Homo sapiens: one gene and its partner. The protein of the gene in region 1 interacts with the protein of each later gene in a biochemical or structural test. Each region holds a gene or a part of one and is shown on either strand. Other genes may lie near its edges.

What was found. Proteins that work in one complex are often made in the same cells at the same time.
Region 2: the proteins of ITK (region 1) and LCP2 form a complex in vitro, tested with the Homo sapiens proteins (2 studies listed by BioGRID, with this or other methods).

Annotation. Positions count from the first base shown.
Region 1 is NC_000005.10:157,239,155-157,247,550, forward strand, and holds part of ITK (tyrosine-protein kinase ITK/TSK), read left to right. Parts: intron 1-907; coding exon 908-1,041; intron 1,042-2,491; coding exon 2,492-2,566; intron 2,567-4,468; coding exon 4,469-4,640; intron 4,641-5,107; coding exon 5,108-5,324; intron 5,325-6,571; coding exon 6,572-6,636; intron 6,637-6,726; coding exon 6,727-6,845; intron 6,846-8,396. UniProt on the Homo sapiens protein: Tyrosine kinase that plays an essential role in regulation of the adaptive immune response. Regulates the development, function and differentiation of conventional T-cells and nonconventional NKT-cells.
Region 2 is NC_000005.10:170,266,778-170,273,777, forward strand, and holds part of LCP2 (lymphocyte cytosolic protein 2), read right to left. Parts: intron 4,141-7,000; coding exon 3,942-4,140; intron 1,706-3,941; coding exon 1,608-1,705; intron 299-1,607; coding exon 232-298; intron 115-231; coding exon 31-114; intron 1-30. UniProt on the Homo sapiens protein: Adapter protein primarily involved in signaling pathways within T-cells, as well as other immune cells such as platelets, mast cells, and natural killer (NK) cells.

The sequences.
Region 1 (8,396 bases):
CCCCACAACTACCCCCAGCTTCAGGGATTCACTAGGAGGCCTTCCAGGACAAAGACTTATTGAGATTTAATACAGCAAAGTGATACAAAGCAAAATCAGCAACGGGAAAAGACACATGGGACAAAATCTAGAGGAAACAAAACACAAGCTTCCAAGAGTCCTCTCCCACTGGAGCCAAACAGGACGTGCTTAATTCCGCCAGCAACAAGTTGTAACCACACGTTAGCAGTCTACCAGGGGAGCTCATTAGAGACTCAGTACCCAAGGCTTTTATTGGAGGCTGTTTCCACAGACAGCCCCTGCCTAGCACATGCCAAAGTTCCAGATACCCAAAAGGAAAACAAGCGTTCACCATAAAACACATGTTTCTAGCAGACGGTTTAGGTACAGCTCGCCACCCTTATCAGTTAGGGAAAGAGCCCTCCCGAAATCCAAGTTCCCAAACACCAGCCAAGGGTTAACCATGCAAGCAGGTCTTTCTAAGGAGGGTAGTCAGGCCTGTTATGTTCATCCTCTGCAGCTTATTTGACTTATGAAGTCAAATAAGGGTGAAGGGGTCAGAGAGGCTTTCTCAATGTATGCTGACAATCAGTTAAATTCATAGAATAGGCAAGGCAAACACATAGCAAATATTTCCATTCCCTCATTTTGTGGCAATGGAAGAACCATCACCAATCCATCACAGCATTGCTGTCCACTGGGTCCAGACACAACCTCAGAGTCCTTTTTAACACAGTACTGCAGCACCCAGGCCCAATCTGTCAAGACAGACTTATAAGTTGAACAATATCTGCCACCTTGTGAGAGGTTATAAGACAAAGATAATAAGAACTTAATACTCGTAGACTTTTTTGTGTCTCAACATTGCTTCTTAATAATCATTACATTTGTGTTTCATTTGTTTAAGTGAGAACAATCCCTGTATAAAGCATTATCACATCAAGGAAACAAATGACAATCCTAAGCGATACTATGTGGCTGAAAAGTATGTGTTCGATTCCATCCCTCTTCTCATCAACTATCACCAACATAATGGAGGAGGTAAGCTCTAGAGCAGGGGTGGACCCGGGCCGCCCAGCAGGAGGTGAGCAGCAGGTGAGCAAGCATTACTGCCTGAGCTCTGCCTTCTGTCAGATCAGCGTCATTAGATTCTCATAAGAGTGCAAGCCCTATTGTGAACAGCACTTGTGGGATCTAGGTTGTGTGCTCCTTATAAGAATCAAATGCCTGATGATCTGAGATGGAACAGTTTCATCCTGAAAGCAACCCCCTGCCACATCCCTCCATGGATAAACTGTCTTCCACAAAGCCGATCCCTGGTGCCAAAAAGGTTGGGGACTGCTGCTCTAGAGGACAAAGCCAGAGGGCACCTGGGTTAGACTTTTTTGAATTGCTATCAAGGAATACCTGAGGCTGGGTAATTTATAAAGAAAAGAGGTTTAATTGGTCCATGGTTGTATAGGAAGCATGGTGCCGGCATCTTCTTGGCTTTTAGGGAGCCCTCAGGAAGCTTTCAGTCATGGCAGAAGGCAAAAGGGGAGCAGGAGTATCACATGGCAGGAGCAGGAGCGAGGAGGGAGAAGATGCCACAGACATTTAAACAACCAGGTCTTGCATGAACTCAGAGTGATAACTCATTTATTATCACAAGGACAGTGACAGCACCAAGGCATTTGTGATGGATCCCACCTAATGACCCAAACACCACCTCCCATCCCACCAGGCCCCACCTCCAACATAGGGCTTTTCTTTTCTTTTCTTTCTTTTCCTTTCTTTTCTTTTCTTTCTTTTTTTTTTTTTTGAGACAGAGTTTCGCTCTGTTGCCCAGGCTGGAGTGCAGTGGCTCAATCTTGGCTCACTGCAACCTCCACCTCCCAGGTTCAAGCAATTCTCCTGCCTCAGCCTCCTGATTAGCTGGGATTACAGGCATGTGCCACCACATCCCGCTAATTTTGGTATTTTTTGTAGAGACAGGGTTTCACCGCATTGGCCAGGCTGGTCTTGAACTCCTGACCTCAGGTAATCTGCCCGCCTCAGCCTCCCATACTGCTGGGATTACAGGTGTAAGCCACAGTGCCCAGCCAGGGATTACATTTCAACATGAGATTTGGAGGGGACAAACATCCAAACTATATCAGCACCCACACAGGAGACTTAATGAAAACTGGCAAAAGCTCGCCCTGGCTTCTTTTTGACTATAAATAATAAATAAATATACAAATAGAAAAATATGACAAATATTTAATTATATTATATATCTTCTATTAGCAAGCTATCTTGTGGAAATAATGGAATTTTACCACTTGCCCATCTGTGCTTATGATGTTTTCAAGGAGGATATGATATCAATAATTAGGCTTTGGGATTTGTTTTCCAGAATAAAATTAGCTTTTGCGTCTGATGATGATTATTATTTTTTTTAGTGATTTAAGTTAGATGGTTGCTAGAGCAAAGCCCTAACCACTGCTTCTTGGCTTTTCAATCAACCCAGGCCTGGTGACTCGACTCCGGTATCCAGTTTGTTTTGGGAGGCAGAAAGCCCCAGTTACAGCAGGGCTGAGATACGGTGAGCAGTACAATCAGGAATGTAAACTCATGTCCCTAAAGGTCTGGGGCAAATTCTGAATAAACTGGCCATGAGCCTACCTGTTCCTCAGACTACAAATCACCATTAAAACAAGTGTATTATATATCTAGAGATGATGGCACTAATGAATATTTACATTGTGTGTAAGAGAAGTACATATACAAGCACATTTCTCTAGGTCAAACCAGTGGCCATTGGTTTTAGTGAAGAGTTCATTAATGAAGTGTTTATTAAGCACCTACTTTGTACAGAGCACCCTACTAAATGCTATTAGAAAAATATTAGAAAACCATGCCTTAGCACTGTGTTTCCACCTATCTTCTAGAACTTTTATATCATCTAGTTGGTTGAGTAGCAGACTATTGCCAGAACTGCAAGTTGAGAGCATCTAGAAGTGTTTCTCTGCATAAGAGAGTGTTAAAATTCTTTGGAATACCTTTAGGCGTGGCATGATCTCCAGTGCCGCAGCCCCTACTATGTTTTCTTGCCCTACGGAATTGCTTCACTCACTTGGGATTACCTGCCTGGACTCTGAAGGCATTTGGCTTTGCATCCCTTGGTCCCAACTGTGTGCTGCCTGTGGAGAAGGCTGGTCTAATTTTCATTTCTTATCTCCTAGCTTGGTGGTTCTCAAATTTCAGTGTGCATCAAAGTCTTCTAGAATGCTTATTAAAAATGTTGACTCCTGGCTCCTATCCAAACACTCACCAAAACACAATCCTTGATAGGGTCCTGGAGTCTACTTTTTTTTCTGGCATGATCTCCCTCTGTCACCCAGGCTGGAGATGCAGTGGCGTAATCATGGCTCACTGCTGCCTTGACCTCCTGGGCTCAAGCGATCCTCCCACCTCAGCCTCCCAAGTAGCTACTATGCCTGGCTAATTTTTAAAAATTTTTTGTAGAGACAGGGTCTCACTATGTTGCCCTGGCTGGTCTTAAACTCCTGGGCTCAGGCAATCCTCCTGCCTCAGCCTCCCAAAGTGTTGGGATTACAGGCATGAGCCACTGTGCCCAGCTGAGTCTACATTTTAAACAAGCATGCTAGGTGATTTTGATACAAGTGGTCAGAGGGCAATACTTTGAGAACCACTGCCACGCATGGGCTTCTTTATCCCTAACCAGCACCGTGTCCGGCACACAGTAGGTGCTCAATACTGCCTGCTGTTGAGTCTCTGCCTCAAAGCAGTGGAAATCTGGCTGTTTAGGTACCAGACCAAGCACTGGGGAAAGAGTGCCTCTTTAGCCTCCTTATGAAAATAAGGGTATTCTAATAAATGTAGAATCTTGATGTGTCCGTGCTGGATGGGATTTCAGATATTACCTGGTCAGCCTACTCATTTTGTTGGTGAGGAAATTGAGCCTCGGAATCTCGTATTTGTTTGTTAAACATTTCTTGAGAGCCTCCCATGTGCCAGACACTGTGCTAGCTTGTGCCTCTGCACAAATTCTCTTTAAATCTTTCTCTTTAACTGCCCCTCTGCCCCAGTAAGGCCTAATAGGGTTATGTGTATATAGCAGGTGCTCTTAATAGATGAATGAATGAAAGAATGATCAGCTCAATGAAATTTACTTAGTGTGAAAAATGACATAGAAAAATGGGACATTGCAAGAACCCTTTCTTTAATATTTTGATTAATATGGTTTCTTTAATATCTTCATTAATGCCACTCTCCTTCTTTCCATGTTACCTTCCCACACATATTTTCATAGTTTTCTAGCATATCCTATGTTATTATGTGGGAAAAAGATAATTTATTTGCCATCTTTGAATTATATTAACAATAGGCTAAAATTCTAGTTAGGGCTTTATAGTCCCCTGGTATCCCAATACCTTATATCTACTGCTTGCTGACCCCAGAGAACTCTCTCTCTCTCTTCCAGGGAAATGGGTGATCGACCCCTCAGAGCTCACTTTTGTGCAAGAGATTGGCAGTGGGCAATTTGGGTTGGTGCATCTGGGCTACTGGCTCAACAAGGACAAGGTGGCTATCAAAACCATTCGGGAAGGGGCTATGTCAGAAGAGGACTTCATAGAGGAGGCTGAAGTAATGATGTGAGTGCTCAGAACAAGGATATGCAGAAACTCTGGGGGGAACATCGGTTCAGTGTTCTTGAAATGCCATTCAAACGCCAGGGGGTACTATCTCCCTGCGCAAACTCCCAGCAGTGGCTTCCTATTGCACAGAGAATACAATCAAACTCTTCACAGTGGTCTCCAAGGCCCACCATAATCTGATCATGCCCACCTCCCCCTTCTCAGCTCCTACCCATCTCTCCTCCAGTCCATGACATGCCAGCCACACTGGCCTCTGCTCATCTTCACACACACAGCTGACTCCTTGCCATTTTTCAGGTCTCAGCTCCAATGACATGTTTTTGTTTTGGGGAGGGAATGAATATTATTTTCATCCAAACCATAAATTAGACAAAATGACCATTGGCTATTTTGGTACCATAATATTTTCGGCATTTTTGGGAGACTGAGTTTAGGCCATCTCACCCCTTGTCTTTTTCCTCCAGGAAACTCTCTCATCCCAAACTGGTGCAGCTGTATGGGGTGTGCCTGGAGCAGGCCCCCATCTGCCTGGTGTTTGAGTTCATGGAGCACGGCTGCCTGTCAGATTATCTACGCACCCAGCGGGGACTTTTTGCTGCAGAGACCCTGCTGGGCATGTGTCTGGATGTGTGTGAGGGCATGGCCTACCTGGAAGAGGCATGTGTCATCCACAGAGACTTGGTATGAGCATGCAGGGTGAACACCCACAGGTCCAGGGTAAAGGGACAGTTCTCACTGAAATGACTGGGAACGCATTAATAAATAATACATTACAGATAATCTCCTTTCCTTTCTCAACTTCTCCCTTCCTTCACCTACTTTGGGTGGTCCTAGTGGAAAGGGCTTCATGAGGACTTACTTCTGGGCTCTGATCCCAGCCCAAACTCTTTCACCTCCTGCATTTCAGTTTATATTCTTCCAAAATGGAGATAACTGCCACTCCTTCTTAACCTCTCTGTGACTCAATTTCCTCCTGGTAAATTGAGGAAACTGAGTTTGTCTGAAGGTATTATTCAAGGGTCTACCAGAATCACACTGGGGAAGCCCTTAAGCTACTCTCAGAATCTCTGGTGGCTGGGACTCAGGAATATTCATTTTAACACATTCCCCGTATGATTTGTATGCACATTAAAATTTGAGATATGCAGCTGGGTGCGGTGGCTCATGCCTGTACTCCCAGCACTTTGGGAGGCCGAGGTGGGCGAATCACGAGGTCAGGAGTTCGAGACCACCCTGGCCAACATGGTGAAACCCCATCTCTACTGAAAATTCAAAAAATTAGCTGAGCTTACTGGCGGGCACCTGTAACCCTAGCTACTTGGGAGGCTGAGGCAGGAGAATCACTTGAACCCAGGAGGCAGAGGTTGCAGTGAGCTGAGATCAAGCCACTACACTCCAGCCTGGGTGACACAGTAAGACTCCATCTAAAAAAAAAAAAAAAAAAAAAATTGAGACACACTGGAGTGTTATCTCCAATGGCTTTTTCAATGCAACAGTCTATAATACTAATTAGGGGTCAGGTACTCTCCCTATTGAAGAACAGTTTTAAGAGGATTAACAACATCAAAACATTCTTAATTTAGTCAACTGGGAGATGCTTTCTTCCTGTTATCCCTGATGTTAACATTTCCTATCACATCAGGTTGCATTAGAGCCTATCTTTGGTTAGACAACACCAAGGATTTCTAATTAGAACTCAAGAATGAAGATAAACTTACTCATCTTGATAGTGGATCTTACACATTCAACTTTCCAGTTAACTTCCAGCGGCATTTGTGAGGCTTAATTAACATTTGTAAAGCTCCATGATGCCCTTGTATGACAGCACTGCAGTAAAGCAAAGGACTGTGATTATAGGAGACTCCTTAACTACTGATGACTCATCAACAGTTTTCCTCTCCGCCTTTGTTTGCCTGTCTCCTCTCCAGGCTGCCAGAAATTGTTTGGTGGGAGAAAACCAAGTCATCAAGGTGTCTGACTTTGGGATGACAAGGTAAAAGAGGGATGTGGTGCCGGTGAAGTCTCAGGAATGGGACTGAGGCCCCCGGAACATTCTGACCTTCTCCCTCCACTCTCTTCCCAGGTTCGTTCTGGATGATCAGTACACCAGTTCCACAGGCACCAAATTCCCGGTGAAGTGGGCATCCCCAGAGGTTTTCTCTTTCAGTCGCTATAGCAGCAAGTCCGATGTGTGGTCATTTGGTGAGTGTCATGCTGGGCCCCACTGCCCCATGATCTGGGCTTCAGGCCAGCTGTTTCCTTTATCAAATGCAGACAACCCTACCCACACTGAACCCTGTATCATATCATGAGGGTGTCCCACTGGAGGGTTGTGTAAGAAAGGCCCCGAAAACTATGAAAGGGCCTTCATCATTTTGTTTGTTTTTAGAGATACTGGACATGGTGGTGGGAGTTAATTAAAAGTGGAAACAAGAGTTCTGGTGCCAGCTGCTGTGAAGTCAAAAGCTGGAGAAGTCAGGAGATTCAAATATGAGCCCCTTGAAGGCAGGGACCATGTTTTGTCCAACACTACATTTCCATACTTATCTCTCAATAAGTATTAATATTTATTCATTCATTCAACAACAATTAACTGATCATCTATTCTATGCCAAGGGCTAATCTAGGTGCTGAGGATGCAGTGGTTCATAGAACAGAAAAGACTTCTGTTCTTTTGGAACTAAATTTGAGATGGGAGGGGAGACAGAAAATCACAAAAGATCATAATAACAGTCATAAACAATAATAATAATAAACAAGCTAAGGGATAGAAGATAAAGCCAGGCAATCATAAGTAGGTGCTATGAATAAAATAAAACAGTAATGGGGCAGAGTGACTAGGATAGAGAGAGGGTCTGCTTTGAATAGTGTGGTGTGGGAAGGCCTTTCTCAGAAGGTAATTCTTCAGCAGAGACTTGAATGATAGGAGGGAGCTGTCACCATTTGAAGAGCCAGGGAACAGTGTCCCTGACAGAGGGACCAGCAAGTGCAAAAACTTGGTGCATCCAAAGAACAAGGGGTACTGACTTATTGGGAGAACAACAGGCAATGAAGCTGGTAGGCCATCATAAGGAATTAGAATTTCTAAAAAGTGCAAATGGCCATGAAGGGATGAATGATGTTGGTATTGCAGGATGTGCCAAATGTTCTTGCTGGATTTGCCATGTCACCTGAAGTCATAGTTTGTGCATACTAAAGTGTGCAAAAAAATATACCAGACAACCTCTTTGATTTGGATTACAAGAATTATACTGTGGACAGAAACTACTTGAAGATTGATTTTTGCCATTCGGTATGAAGGAAGGGTTTGACAAGGGCTTACTAGTAGTAGAAACCAGGGGGGAGTTTGGCTAGGTAAATCTTTTAGGAGAAGAATGAGTGTTAAAAATCTTCTGCAGCATTTTAGTCTATCCATCTCTAGGAGCCAAGTGGTTTGTTCATTATGAGTCCTACCTATTTCTTAAAACAGTACCCTATTAACCAACCCTTGCAGCTACTTTGTTAACCAGGTTTAAGTTACAGAATGGACTTGAAAGAAATTGTACTAACAGCATTTTTGGATGACTCCCCTCTCCCCAGTGTGTATAACTAGGAAGGTTGGGGCTGATGTGCAGTCATCTCACTATGGGTGATGAAACTGATCACACTGCACCAAGCAAGCAAGGGCCCCACAATGAGACATTTGGAGCAATGGCCACTTTAGCACATTCACCTTCTGACTCTGAATGGGGTTTATTCAGCCAAAGGGTGTCA
Region 2 (7,000 bases), about 13 Mb from region 1:
TACTATGCATTAAATGTGAATCATACCCACCTAGTGTGAAGGGTTCTCTATCAAACGGAGCTAATGAACGATCTAGGGGAGGTTTCGTGCTTCTGTCTATTGAAGGAGCAGGGACTGGAAGGGGAAAAGGCTGACATCAATTAAAAGAAGAAAGCAGTCGGCTGGGGGTTGGGCGGGGCTAGGGGAGTGCCTGGTGGGAACAGGGCAAGAGAGAGCAGCCCTTGTACTCACGCTTTGCCGTTTTGTGGTTTCTGCTTCTGCTGGGTTCTTCGTGGTTGGTCTGGGGTGGGGGCAGTGGCTGCATAAAGATCCAAACGTTAGGAAGCACTTCCAATACATCAGCAAGAGCCGGCACTCCCAAAACCTGTCTGGATCTGCTCACTTTTCCTCATCTTCATGTTCTGCCTACAAACATCCATGTCCATTTCTTCACTGAACTACCGCAGTAGCCTCCTATCTGAGCTCCCTGTTCTAGACTCTGCCACGCAAGCTCTTTTCTGCAGGCAGCAGAGTGAGCATGTCACTTTCCTGCTAAGCCTCCTATCACATTAGAAACAAAATTGAAACTCGTTAATGTCCTGCGAGGCCCTGCCTGAGCTGGCCCATGTCTGCCCTCTCAACTCTTTCCTGTGATCCCTTCTCAGTACTCATGGGGTCCCTACCATAGAATCTTCTTGCAGTTCCTGGAAAATCTCAAGGTTATGCCCTCTTTGGCATCCCTACACTTGTTTCCTTCTGCCTAGAACGTTCTTCTCCCGGCTCTTCCCACAACTGGCTCATTCTGTCCCAGGTCCTTGTCACCTCCCCCCCCCATACCGTCATGTTACCTGGTCTTCCGTCCCCCGAACCACACATAACTACTCAAATGATCTCTTTCAGACATCTGTCTACCGTCTGATAACTAGCCCTAGTTGAGTTTTATGAAAGCAGGGACCTTATTTATCTTGTTCACACTTTATCCCCAACGCCTAGAACTCTGCTTGGCACATAGTAGCTGCTCAGACAATATTTGCTGATTAAATAAGTGAATCCTGCATCTCAAAAGAAGGTCTTCAAATCTCAAAAGCAATATACATCTGTAGATAAACTTGTGAAGGGAACACATTCCTAACTATCAAGTCCTTAGTCTGAGCTTCTCAGGGTCACTCTGGGAACTTATCAGATTCACAAGGACCGGGCTGTATGCTCGAAGAAGGAGAAAACGGGGTTTGCTACCTCTGTCTCCTCCGGTCTGAAGGCTCCTGTCCTTGGAATTTCAGGTGTCGGCCAGAAGGTGGCGCAAGTCTTTTTGCAGGAGAGAGGAAGGCTCGGTACCCAGGCAACACCAGTAGGTGCCACGGACTTAATTCGGTTCTCTTTGGGTTTATTTTACAGTTTTCACTTCTCTCAAATAGTGGGAAGTAAATAAAAACCACCAGTATTTTACCCCAAAAAAGAAACACGTGTGAATGCTTGGGTTTGCCTTTCCCCAGCCGAGGGAAAAGATTATAATCTTTTCTTACAAAATTAGAATGAGATAAAGATGTTTATAGTTTTATTTTTCTCTCTGGCGGAGGAAATAACTGCAGTGGACACCAAGTACTGTAAAAGAACGGGAGGAGGCCTACCGAGTGATTCCGGCCGGCTGGTGGGGGCGGGAGGGCGGCCATCGGTCTCTGGGGGGGCACAGGAGGCTGCTGGGGGGTTTTCCCAGAGGGGGGCCGGTCTGTGGAAACACAAGGTTATTAAAGTGAAAGGGGAGTATCGGCCAAGCTCAGGGGTCTCCAGGAACAGATATGCAGCTCGGGGCACCGGGGGTGCATGATCCTTGACCCCCAGGCCCACATGAGCCCCAGCCACGGGGAGACCCAGCCTGGATCTCACCCACCCCTCCCTGCCCATTTTTTCTGTCCTAGTTTGTGTCACTCTCCTTATACACAGGCTCAGCTTTCTTTGCATTTCACAGGAATAGGTATTTATCAGAGATTTTGCCAATCAAGAAAGGCCTCTTTGTAACCAGCTCAGCCAGAACTGGAAGGGAGGATTTTCAGACAATTTTGTAAGAAGTAAACATACGCATACCTCTGTATGCAGACACACAGATATACACATGTGCACACATGCATGCACACACATGCATATATATGCACACACCTGCATACACAGAGACACGAGTGCACACAGACACACACACATGCCAAAAATCTCACAGGCACACCCAGCTGCCTGTGCAGGGTGAAGTCAGCTCTCACTGCCATAGGGATCTTGTTCTGTCTGCCCTTCCTTCCCCTCTCCAGTGTCCTGGGCTATCTCCTCCCTGACACTTCCTCATTTTGCTCATCTCTTCCCATAAAGGGAGGAGCTGATCACCAACTTCTGTTACCAGACCACAGACTCTTAAGTGGAAGCTAGATTTGCCTCGAGCAGAAACTCACATTATCTGGGCAGAAACTCACATTATCCACATCTCCACGGAAGTGTCCCTAGGCCAGGTTGACAGGCTGGCAATTTCCTACCCCTTTGACAGGGAAAGGCCAGGACAAGACCATCAAGCAAGAGGGGTGAGTGGGTAGGGCCTCCTTACGCTTTGTGCCCTGGGTGCCTCTCTTGCCCGACTCTAGTCCCAGCCTTGGGGAGGTGCAGCTCTTCCACAGGGAAAAGGGTAGGAGCAAGGCCCAGCCTGATCTAATTCCACCCTGCTCCACCCGCACTGGCCATCTCTCAGCTTCTCTAATAGGCCATGCTCCTTTGAGCCTCAGGGCCTTTGCACAGCCATTTCTACTGCTCCAAATGTTCTTCCCTTACCACATCCATTTCCACTTGGCCAACTTGTATTTATCCTTTAACCTTGGTTTAATATCACAGCTTAAAGATACACCCTCAGGCAAACGCTCCAGCCTCATCTGTGCTTGTCTTCGTGCCTCTGTATCACGGTTTCACCAAGTAACCTCATGGCTCATTTGTTGGAGGGTGCGTCACCTGCCAGACTGTCAGTCCCTTGGCGAGGGCTGTCTTATTCACTCTGTATCTTAATGACTGGCACACACAAGGCACTCAACAACTGACTCATCCATTGCTTTTCCGGACCTCCACTTCCCTGTATATGAAACAGACTTGATCATGGTTGTCCTTATTACACAGATGTTTAAAAACCACCATGAGATATTGAGACAGCATTTTGTGAAAGGGCTTTAAAATGGAAATGGGTTATACCGCATAAAGGATTAAATGGTATTCGTTTTTTGTGGTACTGACCTTCAATTTTCAGCGTACTCTCTGAAAGTATATTATTTAAGAATATATTTGTTTATTTTCTGTCAACACCACTACTAGAATGTAAGCCCCAGGAGGCAGGGGCTATTTCTTCTTTCCTGATCATTTCTAAGCACTGAGAATGGGGCCTGGGCTCCCAGCAGATCAACAATGTTTGTTGAATGAATGGAGAGAGAAGTGGGCTAAAAGGACAGATAGACAATAAAAATCGTAAACACCATCTAATATTTTTTAAAGTTATAGTCAAACCCTACTCAATATCTTCATGTTTATTCTAGCATAATAATGCCATGTAACTATAATTTGGTCAAAAGATGGGGAGGAACAGGAAAGTACTCTTGGAGTACCTGAGTAAACTGCAGAATGAGTTGAAACTGCCAAATAGCCTTAGGTGGTAGTTCAATGCTGATATCAGCCACCATAGGCAAGAATTGGTTGCAGTCTTAGTAGTCCTCACAGGAAACCTATGTGGTCTGTACATTTATTATCCTATTTCACAGATGAGGAAATTGAGGCCCAGAGAGACAGAGTTACTTGTACAAAGCCACATAGCTGTTAAGAAGCCGAGCAGATATCGAGACCCAGAGCTTTCTGCTACATGGGCAAGCTGGGGCATCAGCCTTCCATGCAGCAGTGGCGAGCTTGCCTTTGGGCTGCTCGGGCCAGAAAATCCGGAAACGGGCCCTTACCGATGTACATGGAGTTGGAGTTGGGGAAAGGCTTGGCAGGCAGGATGGAGTTCTGCAGAGCTTCCTCGTCATTGGAGGGTGGCGGCTCATAATCCGCGTCATCTTCCACGGGTGCCTCTTCCTCCTCATTGGGGGACTCATAGTCTCCATCATCCTCCCCATCCTGGTCATCATTGGGACTTTCATAATCGTCTTCTTCCTGCCCACACAGTGATAGGGACAGTGCAGTTTGTAGAGGCTCTGTGGCCCTCGATGTGCCTGTGCCTACTCTCTCCCTGCCAAGCCTCACAACAGTATAACCCGGGACCAGGCAGCCTGAAGATGGTTACTCCCATTTTACAGATGAGGAATCTGAGGTCAGGGAGCACTGTACCACAGGGGCAGCAAGTCATGGACTTGAGACCTTGGTGAAGGTCTTCGGACCACCTTTTTACACAACACCTTTCTGCACAACAGAGAGAGAAGAAAGGGGAAGGATGCTGGAATAGAAGGTACCGGAATAGGCTCTGTCTTGAGTAAACACATTTTTTGCTCCAGGCATCACCATGAGAAAGACTAAAGGCCTGGAGCATTTGTGATGATACTAGTTAATTGCCATTTCTGTTCAAGGGTGCCTGTGCTCAAAAAATGTCCTCTCATTATAACCTGGTGCAGCGTTGAAGGCCCGGCTAAGGGGAAAAACAGATAAACAAAGCCTGTTAAGTGGAAGGCAGATTAAGTTGTGTCGAGGAGGGGACCGTCAGAGGCTGTGCTGTTCTTTTTGCTGAAAGTTGAGTGTATCAACACATCCATTATTCATGAAATCTGACACTGAGTTTGAAGCTGTTCTCTTGGAAAGAATCTCTAAATTTTAGATTTTTTATTGTATTTTATTTTTGCTTCTTCTTGGATCTCAGGGAAAGTAAGCCCGAGGTGCTGGATGCTTGCCTTTGAAGCAGTCCATGAAGGTGAATGAGCATCAGAATGACCTCCCAAGCAAAGGCGGCACCATCAGCAGCAGTGATGAGCGCTCATCATGGTCATGCCAAAGTCCAGGGGGTGAGTCAATGAGCCCAGACCTCAACACTCAAGGGCAGTGTGGGAAAAAGCAATGGGAAGTGGCCACTTTTTGAGGAAAGAAATGTTCCAGTGTCCTAGAAATCCTGACAGCTTTGGGTGGCCTCAGGCAGACTGTCTTTACGTTGTTCTGTTGAGAGAGTCCTGTGTTTGTTTTTGACTTGAGGAATATTAAAAACATCAACAACAGAGGGGCAAAGTGAGCATTGGGTGCCTTCCCAACTCCAAAAAAAGACTTTGTCCTGCCCTGTCAGGGTTCTTATAACTTTAGGAGCAGGTGGGCAGAGCCCCAGAGGAATGCTGCTTCAGATCAAGAGCCTCAGCATGGAGGTCCGCAGGCACGTGGCCTCCCTCCAGGCTGCTGACCCTTTCCTCACCCTGTCTACCCTAGGCCCATCATTCCTGACTTTACACCAGCTCTTTACCCCATCAACCTTTCTCAAATGACAGAATTTTCCTCTCTGCTTCTAGAACAATTATTTTCTCCCAATCATTTGGCTCCTAAATTTGTATGCATGATGTTGTTGCTAATTATATTCTGCCATATGTGTGTTAAAGTAAATTAAAATGGAGACCAGGCCTGAAGAATCCCTGAGCAGACAAAACCAGTTGGGCCTCATCAGTGACCTAAACCTTACTTGATTTGCAGCATAAGCAAAAGTTAACTTGGGCTATTTCTTGTAAATGCCTGTATTAAAGAAAAACAGAACTTAAGCCCAACCAATCAGAAGTAGCCAGCCAACTCATAATTATATAACTAGGAGCTTTCCAGCAAGATAGACTAAATGAGATCGGTTATAACTGTAACCCATCAAATATTTTCTTTTTTTTTTTTTTTTTTTTTTTTTTTTTTTGAGATGGAGTCTCTCTCTGTCACCAGGCTGGAGTAGTGCAATGGTGCAATCTCGGCTTACTGCAACCTCCACCTCCCGGGTTCAAGCAATTCTCCTGCCTCAGCCGCCCAAGTAGCTGGGACTACAGGCACGCACCACCACGCCCAGCTAATTTTTGTATTTTTTAGTAGAGATGGGGTTTCACCATGTTGACCAGGATGGTCTCGATCTCTTGATCTTGTGATCTGCCCGCCTTGGCCTCCCAAAGTGTTGGGATTACAAGTGTAAGCCACCGCACCCGGTTCAAATATTTTCTTTGTATTACATCTACATTCACTTTATAAATGCTTGTCCCTCATCCTTCTTCAGCAAAGCCTCCTTCTGGTTTGGTGCTGCCTGATTCATGAATCACTGTTTGCTCAAATAAACTCCTTAAAAAAAAAAAAAAATTGCATTGTGCCTCAGTTTACCTTTTTAAAATGGGGTATCCATACTGTAAAATGCTTATGATTGGGTCCTTTATCTCCACTCATTTCCCAGTATGCCCTTGCAAAGAGCTGGGCACATAACGGAGCTGCCAAGCTCTATAGCCACTAGTGAATGGAAGCCCTCAGTTTACAGAGAGGATCGAAGACTAGCCTCAGGCACAGCACAAGAGAGGCTGCATGGCAAGGATTCTGCCTCTGTGAGTAAACAGAAACATTCCAGCGGAAACTCTGGGCTATTTTCCCTTTGTACCAGAGAAATCTGTCAAATTCCTTCATTTTCAGGTAGAAAGCATAAACTTAGCTAAATCTTTTTTTTGTTTTTTTTCCAATTAAATACTTTCTTTTACCAGAATCCCAATAGGTCAAGGGACAGTTTGTTTCTGCCTTCTGAAGGCACTAGAGGTGGCCTCTTACCAGAAGGCCCACGTGACTGAGGGTCTGGTTACCTGGGTCCTAGGTCTGCCTCTAACTAACTTTGTGTTCTACGCACGTCACGTTCTGCTCTCCTGTGGACTCAGTTGCCTCATCTGTAAAATGAACAGATTGGGCTACGGTCCATAATAGAGTTCTTAGCCTGAGACTGCTTCATGGGTGGTGACTGTGTATACAGGTTCCTGGGGAGGGGTTGTACAATCCGTCAGACTCTCAGAGGGGGAACTGTGACCTTTCAATGTAAAAATCA